2 separate regions of the Homo sapiens genome follow, and region 1 is linked to region 2. A link means that fine-mapping ties the variant in region 2 to the expression of a gene that starts in the linked region. Tissue or cell type: whole blood. Region 2 holds a variant in brackets; the other region holds the start of a gene. All regions are shown on one strand. Distances are between the middles of the regions.

Region 1 (5,000 bases), 100 kb after region 2:
CACAGGTACCCAAGAGCCAGGTAATGAGCAGTTAAGGTAAGAACATTAAGAAATAGTAGTTGTTTATAGCATGGATTAAGGCAATGCTGTTGTAAACTTTTTTTCCCCCAAAGCTGATTTATCAATCAATTGCCACGAGTTTGCTGCACAAAACTGCAGCCATTATCATGGTTGGCTCTGCAGCCACAACAAAATTACTGAAAGCCTTTTACCAGGAAAGGTTGTCAGGAGGGAGAAGAGTGGTCCTGTATAATAATAAATAACAGGATGAAATGTTAAGTGGTTTGAGGATTCAAGGAATGAAGGAGAAATAATCAAAGAAAAGTAAGCAGGGAAAAACACTAATTTGGTTATGAATTATAGAAAATATTTACAATGATCAATCATGTTTGCACAGTGGTTTGTTTGCTCATTATATTCTCCATTCATTGGCCAGCATGGTAATAAGTATCTCAACCTCTCTTGCCAGAGACCAGAGCTCTGTCCCCTAATGTGGAGGTGACTTCTTCATAAGAGGACATGGGGTAGAGTGTCAAGTATTCAAAACTCTGGAACTAGATTGGCATTCGGGTGGATCTCGACCCTGCCACTTAGTAAGTGTAACTTAACTTCTCTGGGACCTCTTCACCTTACCTGTGAAAGGAGTTGAATAAGAACTCCCATTTCACTGGATTCTTGTGAGCCTTAGCTGAATAAAGTTAGAAAAGCGGGGGCCGAGCGCGGTGGCTCATGCCTGTAATCCCAGCACTTTGGGAGCCGGAGGCGGGCAGATCACGAGGTCAGGAGATCGAGACCATCCTGGCTAACATGGTGAAACCCCGTCTCTATTAAAAATACAAAAAATTAGCTGGGCGTGGTGGCAGGTGCCTGTAGTCCCAGCTACTCGGGAGGCTGAGGCAGGAGAATGGCGTGAACCCGGGAAGCGGAGTTTGCAGTGAGCTGAGATCGTGCCACTGCACTCCAGCCTGGGTGACAGTGCGAGACCCCGTCTCAAAAAAAAAAAAAAAAAAAGAAGCTCTGGGACCTGTTAAATGCTGTGTGTTTGGTAAATAAAAAACTTCCGACTTTGGCGCTGTTCTAGGCACTGAGGATTTTAGAATTTTCAAAAAGCTTTTGCATATTTTATCTCGCTTGACCCGAAAAATCCTGAGGTAGAGCAAATAATATTTTTTTCTACCTTTAGTATGTAAGGAAATTAAGGCCCAGAAAAGTAGTGAGTAATATGACCCAAATTCACAGTGGAGAGACCAAGACTGCAACTTAGTTTTCTCAAGTGTTTACCTCTGGGCTACCCACCATCAAGGCTAAGAATTCTCAACAGCTCTGGTCTTCTGGAGGCCTTTCCTTGTCAAATCTCATTCCTGTTTTCTACCCCTCCCCCCAAACCCCCGTACTATCTAGCAGAGAAGAATCTTCACTTCTCAGTTGAGGAACGCCCTTTCCCTTTACAGGCTTTTGGCCAAAATGAGCAAAGTTCTCTTCTCAGGATGAGGTGGCCAGCCTTTCTGCATCAATATTGTGAAACACATGAATAATCTGGGCACGCATCCCCAGGGCCATGACTCTGCAATTTTGTACCTTCTAAAACTAACAAACACTACACATGAGATAAAGAAAAAAGATAATTCGGTGGCCATGTTGCGGATACGTTAATCTGGAACTCTAGATGAATTCTAGCATTTCCTGAAGGCATCGTGGTGGCTGCAGACTCAGCCCACTATGTGGTCTCATGCAAAGTGGGGTTCAGAGCCCAGAGGCTGCAGGTGAAATGCTGGTGCCTCTCGGGAGAGTGGTGGGGTAAGGCCTTTCTCTGTGCTGACCTGACCTCCTTTTCCAATCTCAGGGATTCATAGACACCACTCTAAAACAAAGCGGTAGAAAAATTTTACTCGTCTGCCAGAGAGGGTAATATCCAAATTTGGACTGATTTGCCTTTTTTTTTTTTTTTTTTTTAATTACCAAAGATAATCGCACACATAGCCCTCTTATTTTGGAAACAGCAGAGGACAACAAAGTCCAGTACTATCCTAAGGCCAAGAAAAGCATATGCAAAAGGTAGGTGTAGGCTGGGACTCACAGCAGGCTGGGACCCCAGGAAAACTGGGCTTTAAGGATTGCTCACTGGAGGCCTGGGTGCTATACAGCAATGCTTGCGGGCACCCACTCAGCACTCACTGGGTAAGAAATTAGGGAGAAGAAATAGGGGAATATAAACGTGGAGCTCAGACTGCCACATTTCAAGAGAAGCAGAGAGACTAGAAGATTTACATGCACTCCTCTCTCCTCTGTCCCAAGCCAGCTAGAGCAATATATGACACCTTAATTCCCGAAAAAGAGAGTTCCCTTCTCCTTTTCTCCTTCCACATGGCTTCCTCCTCCAGACTGGGGAAGTGGGGCACAGGTGAGAACCGTCCCAAGGGGCTCACCCTTAGCTCTCTTGTCACTGGCTATAATATCACACAAAAATATTATCATCTAACCCACATCCTCTTGTTTCGATAGCTAGCATTATTAGCAGTAGTATTATTTAGTATTATTTTAAAACTTGCTGATGTTTCTCCTATCAAAGTGAACTCAGAAGAGCAAATCCTGCCTTACAATAGGCATAAAGGCCACTATGCCCATGAAACCTGAGACATCGCAGGCTTTTGCACTCTTGGGGAGAACAGCAGTCGTTCAAACTACAGGCATTTCCTCCATTACTACACGTGCCTTTTCCTCCTTCCCCAGAGTTCAAGGGACCCTTTCAAACAGGAGGTTACTTTGACTTGAAAAGGCTAAGTTTGGAAATCATCACTCAAGCATGAAAAGACTCTCTCGTTTCATTCCTGGAGTTTGAGAAATGGGAAAACTTACCCGCACGGGGACAGAAATACAATTCCCTTTCAAAAGCGATCGATTGAAAAGCTAAGTTTAGCTGCTAAGTGGAGCCAAGCACTTCCAGCTGGCAGAGACCCCCCCAAGTCTTCCATCTGCCACCCACCCTGGCCCTCCCTGCCTGCCACCCTTTGCATGCGGTCCCCTTCTCCCCTCCCAGTACGCACGGTGAGGCCGAGGAGGAGGAAGCAGCAAGCCTGTCCCGCCGCCGGGTCGCGCGCAATGCAGGGACTGTGGCCGCGCGGGCCGGACGCAGGCACCGCCCCTCTCCAGTTAATCTCCTGTTAATTAGCCCTCCCACGTTTAAAGCCCGACCCCAACCTCGCCAAACCCCTCCTCTAAATCACCTGATTTACCCGCCCACAGTAACCATCGCCTGCTGATTCCCTTTGAGCCCTTCTATTTGGCGCCCTTAGAAACTCTGGTTCCTGAAATGCCAACTCCCCTAATCAGTGGGAAGGGGGACAGTAGCCATTGTCTAGGAACTCTGAATTCTCGAACATTTCAGGATCAGCAGAGTTTTGGAAGTTGTTTTTAAAAACTTCGCAGAAAGTTAAAATCTCCAGGGTAGAACTAATTAGCAGGCATTGACAATATTACCTTCCCTTAGACTTCACCTCCCCTGCGCTGGTGGCAAGGCCTCCTTAAAAGGCTGACAATGACAGAATGTAACCCTCAGTAAAGATCACTTACGGTGTTCCAAATTCATGATACCAGACAATTTGCTTTGTCACGATGTCCCCTCCTGTTCAGGGTCCAGAATGAAATTGGAGGCAATTGTACTGGATCAGCTCATTACACAATCAGCTTAGTGTGTTTTTTACAGGGAGGTTTAGAGGAACGTTTACGGAAGCCGTAGATATTTAGCCTACCATCACTATCTAGATTAGGGATACTTCCAAGCTTCCTAGTCCCCATAGTCCCCACAATATTTATGGATCTATCTTTCATGGGTTTATATGAGAAATGTTTAAGGATTTCTGTTTTCAATCTATATTATTTCTCTCCTAGTGCTATATCTCAGACACTCACCACCTGTTGCAAGGTCTACTTCCTTTTTTTGCTCTTAATTTACTCCTTTAGGCTTTAAAGGATATCCCTAGGACTAACTTTCTAGGATGTGATGGACAAGTTCATGTTCTATTAAAGAAAGAAATAACTACCAGTTTGCTCTAGGAACAGAAATTAATCCAAGGAAGGTCTGAGAATGATTTCTATATAAGCATAACAGTAGGAGTTTTGGAAAATCTAGCATCAGAAGGCATCTGTTCTTCACTTTTATGTCTGTATCTTTTCAAAACTCTACTTATTCACCTATCTTTGTAAAGTATACTAGAATCTGTCTGTAACATTAACTGGAATAGGATAGAATTTGAGATGACATAAATCTATTCTGAATTCTCTCCAAAGGAGTTTGGTATTATAAGAATTTAAGACTCTCTTCATTTATTATAAGGTGATACAGGCCAAATCTTATGGATAACATGGCAGAAAAAGGAAGAGGAGAGCTACTGTTTAGATAATTTGGTCTACAGAATGCTAGTTGAATGGTTCTAACATTTTTTTTTTTTTTTTTTTGAGACGGAGTCTGCCTGTGTAGCCCAGGCTGGAGTGCAGTGGCGCGATCTCAGCTCACTGCAAGCTCCGCCTCCCGAGTTCACACCGTTATCCTGCCTCAGCATCCCAAGTAGCTGGGATCACAGGCACCTGCCATCACGCCTGGCTAATTTTTTGTATTTTTAGTAGAGACGGGGTTTCTCTGTGTTAGCCAGGATGGTCTTGATCTCCTGACCTCGTGATCCACCTGCCTCAGCCTCCCAAAGTGTTGGGATTACAGGCGTGAGCCACTGCGTCCAGCTGGTTCTAACATTTTTTTAAAAAAGAAAGTAGCACTTGACTCATCTAATGCTCTAAATATAGAATGTGTTCAAACTATTAATTGATCAATGAATAAATACTGAGTTCCTACTATCACTAAATCACGAACAATTATTGCCTGTTACATACATATATATATGTGTGTGTGTGTTTGTGTGTATCAGGCAATATTATATATATACATACGGATATATATATGACACTGTATTGGGTAGAATATTAGCAGTTGGTTTAATTGAATAAAC
Region 2 (5,266 bases):
GAAATATGTTAACATGGTGTAATGGGTAACTGCCAAAGTCAGATATGCAATAATATTACATGAATCATTGTCACATAACCACAAAGATTTATAAGAGCAATAAGAACTTATAAAACCTTTTCCACCAAAGTTTAGATGCTCTTAAAAAAATATAGATAGTGATCTGTATATCATATAGTTTAAAGACCTTTTTTGTTTTTTACAGGTTTTCTTTTTTAAAAAATTCATATAACTGTTGTCAACTAGAATAATGGGCAGTTTTTCTATAAAATCTTTCAAGAAACTTTTAAGAATGCTAAATGCATTGCCTCTACTCAATTTATTTTAATATTTCAGCTATGGAACAAAGTTTTTTTGAGAATTCCTTTTATTTTGAAATATGTAATGCATAAAAAGTGTATTTTGTATATCTTTGCGTGTGTATAATATTGTATGTGGACAGTTTAAAGGATAGTAAAAATAAACCCCCCTATGCATACCACTGTTTTAGCCTCATGGGACCTAGTTTTTGTCTTTGGAGCTATCTAAGTGAAACAATACCTATTCGGAGATTGCTTTAGTCTTGAATCTATACTGAAAATAAATTGTTTGATTGCTTTAAGATGCAAGTTTCTAGAATGTATCCACCACCTATAGTTAAAAGAAAAATTGTTTCAAAGTCCAATTCAAACAATTTACAATGTAATTTTGAAAACTGAAATGATACTTATACATCTGTTGACTGCTTACAAATTACAGAGCATTTCAGTTATTGTTATTTTCCAGGTTACTTATAATCCTAAAAGAGAAAATTCCTAAACAGTATTTATTAATTTCACAGCATTTAAATAACAGTAAGGAAAAGCTGAAGCAGAAAACCAATTCAAATTCAGATAATTGTACTAACTTTGAGCTGTAGATTTGGTCCTTTATGTCTCAGTTTCCGTGTGTGACACACACACACACACACACACACACACACACACACACGGAATATATATATTTGAAAACCATCCTAACCGCCTCCTACATTCACAAGATATTTGAATATTTTGTCTTCCTGATCAAACAGAGCTCAAGAAAGGGGGAAAAGCCCATTCACTCATGCTGGGAAGAAAGTGACTTCATTAGCACATCATAGGGGTGCCCCTTTGAAAGTGTGTTAAATTGTGTTAACAGTTTGGTTAAGAGGTGGGAGTGTGACTGGTTTAACTTGTCTCATTAATACACTAGTGCGATTCTGAGTTGGATTTTGCAAGCCTGTTACAGTATTTTCTCACTCCTCTCCCTAGAATTCCTTACACTTTCTACCTCTCAGCTTCTGACTGTTATCAAGGCTCTGCTCTTGAGTGATTTCTAGCCCTAGGACTCTTCCTTTGTTTCAGTCATCAAGAACAATTAGTGGCTCATTTTCCCAAGGAACAGCCATTTCATTGTATTTTGTTGTTTCAGCAGCCCTTTGTCTTCCTCTTGAAGGAGAAATGAACCACCATGCTTTCCAGAGAGGCAGGCACTCAGGGAAACATATTGCTTTATGTGATGAGAGATGTAGAAGGAGGCCCAAGTGACTGGACACAGACACCCTAAGGGTTATCCGTGCAACCAATAATTAAGTTCTTAGCAGCTGATTACTTTCTGTTGCTTAGATGCAAAGCAAACAGAAGTGTCATACACAGGATAAAAGCCAAAGAGCTGAGTACATGTAAACCTCTTTTGGAAGATTTATTACATGTCACAGTGTGGCTATAACTTATTCTCATCTGTCCCTCTTGGCACTTACCAACAGTGATGAAAATGGAGAGTCTTTACTCAGGGAACTCTTGACTGCATTACTGTTAAATTATTTGCATATTGGTAGCACAGAGGGATCCTAGGATGGCAGTTTTCCAAGTTTCATTACCCTAACCCTCACCACTCAATAAAAGTTCCCACAATTCCAATGAGGTGGAGAGAAAACTGCAGAGCTATTTGCCTTTTGAGTATTCTCACTGTTAACTAATGAAGAACGAAGGTGAATGGCACTAAATGGGAGAATGGAAGAATGGGGGGATAGATGGATGAGTGGAAGGACTCACTTGTTTATTAATGGAGCTAATTATATGGTTCTTTTGGGGCAAAATTTGAATAAATGAGTAGGATTTTATCACAAAGCCACAGGGCCCCCTATTGGCATCACAATATAGTTGATCTTGCTTATTGCCATTCTGTTTTGATGAACAATGACATGGAGCATTTATTATGTCACAGACAGGCAGATGGCCATGGATTTTTCTTCGTCCAATTGTACACCTTTCACTAACTATGAAACATATCCACCTGGACATGTATTACTGTATACTCACCTTAACAACTGATATGGTTTGAGTGG[G/A]GGTCCTGTCTTAAATGTTGAAGTGTAATGCCCAGTGTTGGAGGTGGGGCCTGGCGGGAAGTGTTTGGGTTTTGGGGCAGATCCTTCATGAATGATTTAGCACCATCCTCTTGGTGATGAGTGGGTTTACTCGAGATCAGATTGCTTAAAAGTGTATGGCACCTCTCTACTCTTGCTCTTGCTCTGCTCTTGCTATGTGATACACTGACCTCCCGTTTACCTTCTGCCATGATTGTAAGTCCCCTGAGACCCTCACGAGAAGCAAATACTGACAACAAGCTTCCTGTACAGCCTGCAGAACTGTGGGCCAATTAAGCCTCTTTTCTTTATAGATTGTCTAGCCTCAGGTATTTCTTAATGGCAATGCAAAAGAATGGCCTAATATAACAACTAAAGTTACATAGAGTTCAACGTAAGACTGCATAGCATCATTATTCTTCCTGTTTCACTAGGATTAAAATTACCAACATTTTTATGGACTATTCTTGTCATTGTTAGCTCAGCTTTTAAACATCTAACCTTCCCCCTCTCTTCTTATAAATGATATCTCTTAAAGTACATATATGCCTTTCAGACCAACTGGGATAATGTTTCCTACTTCACTCTTTCATGTGGAATCTCCCAGCCTCCTCTTTCATTAACACAGTCATGCATTGCATTTGCAGGATAAGGATAGCTTGGGGTGGAGTTGGAGAGAAATAAAGGTCCTCCAAAATCCTCTGCTTCACAAAACCATCCCAATTTAAACAATTGCTATAATTATGTAAATAAGAATAGAGTCAGCCAACATGTGTTTGAAATCATCAATCTGATTATTTTTATTCATCTATAACACAGACTTTAAATTTTAAAAGTGTGTTTATGGAGAAATGTCACCTCCAGACAAGTCTTCTGAATTTGCTTTCAACCATATTTTTGCCCCAAATCTCCATCACTATGAAAATTCTGGAACCATTACTGTTTTTCTTCCACCTTGATATTTTTTGAATTGATAATCTCGTGTGCATCATAGCAGCAAAGTCTTAAGCCTGCCCTTGCTTAGCTGATGACTGAATTAACCCTATCCTCCAGATCTATACTGCTTTATGTTTTAAGTAGTTAGGCTGAAACCCAACACTTTTAGTCTTTCAAAAATTCTTCCTCATTGAACCCTAATTCTTGACTCACCCACAAATCCATACAATCTCTTCTTTGTTAATTATATAAATTATAGGAGAAATTCAGTAAGTATTTGTTAATTTGAAGGACAATAATGTTTAAATAAAATATTTATGTTTCTTCTTTCTGTCTTTTCTTAATTGTCGTACTCATTGTCCTTTCAATATTGCTCTTTTCTCATTTTAAAATTTAAAATGTTTAACATTTTTCTCTCTTTGGCCTTTTTATAAGCTTCATTGGATATCTCGACAACCTGTACAGTGTCTTTCAACTACTACCATACATAGATGACTCCCAATGCCTACTCAGTGTATTCATCAGAACATACAAGATGTCCAGATGCATCTCAAATGCAATGAATTTATTTATTCAGCAATCATTGATTGAGACCTCCAGCTCCAACCCTGATGCAGTTACCAGCTTTGAAATTAAGTTCTTACCATAAGCAACTAGAAAATCTGGAAAAATATATAAAGGAACTCTTTGTAGGCTTTAGACAGCAACTGAGGCCTACAGCCCATGAAAAAGGGGAGGCCCATGGGTGAGCACCATAATCTTCCACCAGGACCTTGAATATCTGAGCTGTGCAAGTGCCAGGAGAGCCTCCAGGATGCCTGGCTGAAAGTGGCTGCTGGGAAAGTGTATAGAATGTTTAACTATGTCAAATCTATTATGCCAAGCTTGGGGCCCTTGCTAGGAATCCCTGGTATCCCGACATATGAGATCAGTCAGATGCACCTATTCACCCAAAGATTTGGGTTCCCCAAAGTTTTCTAAATCCTTAGATCCTGCAGAGATAGTGCATCCTTCCTTTTTCACAGCTACCCTTCTTGCATATGAGAAAACACTGCAGAGTCCTCTCTCCCACAAGGCAACAGGGTCATCTTCAGGATTTTCCCTCATCTCATCTCCTAAATGCCAGGCCCAAACTTTGGGTTAAATTATATCAAAAGCAACTCAAGGTTATACCAGACCTGAGTGGTGAGGAAAGACACTATACCCCCAAAAGAGCTTCAATGATTAGCCAGCATATTTGGATAAATGACTGGTTTTAAGAGTTTTGATCAAGGAGGCAGGACATGAAACTAGATAAAGGAGAGTTTATTGATTTAGAGCCATCCTCTCAGGATATAAGGCCATGGGATTTAACACTTGACAAGGACTGCAGGGAAAGGCATAAATTTTCTGCTATGGCATCTCTTAGAAGTCTGGAGAAAGTGACGGTCCATGCTGAGTAAAGTTGCATTACTTGAGTTGCTATGGCAGACTGTGGAGAAAGGAATAGAGAGGCTTAGGGAAATAGGCATGCTGCAAAGACTATATGATGTGAGGACAGAAGACCCACAGAGGATTATATTGTTCCATGGGAAGGCCTAGAGGAAGTACCATTTAAGAAGGCCATCAGGAGTGTACAAGGGAGAGGGACACCAGAATCAACAAGAAGTTCAGTGGTGGCTCTGTTCCCCAAGCATTTAAGAAGGCCATCAGGAGTGTACAAGGGAGATGGATACCAGAATCAACAAGAAGTTCAGTGGTGGCTCTCTTCCCCAAGCCACCACTTGGGGCTTGACAGGAGGGGATGTCACAGAGTGGATGATAGGAGGGGCTGTCACAGAGATTTTGTTTGCCACAGAACAAATGGAATCAATAAAGGCTAAGTGGCAGCATTTAACCATCAGGGGCCTGGGAGTCTCAATTAACACAGGACTGGTAAGGTTGGAGTGGTAAGGAGGGAGGCATAACTTTCTGGGAGTTGTGGAG

What was found. PIP is the estimated chance that this variant, and not a neighbour inherited with it, causes the effect.
Region 1: it holds the start of MGST1, and the variant in region 2 is fine-mapped to the expression of MGST1 in whole blood (TOPMed, PIP above 0.99).

The regions. Positions count from the first base shown.
Region 1 is chr12:16,345,755-16,350,754 of GRCh38, reverse strand. It overlaps MGST1 (microsomal glutathione S-transferase 1), which reads right to left and starts at 3,110. Exons shown (of 4, transcript NM_020300.5): 1 at 3,045-3,110. RefSeq lists enhancers at 1,231-2,160, 3,091-4,020.
Region 2 is chr12:16,446,543-16,451,808 of GRCh38, reverse strand. It overlaps a transcript of MGST1 not described here. Among named protein-coding and RNA genes, the nearest start is that of MGST1, 100 kb to the right of the region's middle. RefSeq lists enhancers at 704-1,276, 1,277-1,851. The variant G/A (reference allele first, on the strand shown) is at 2,348.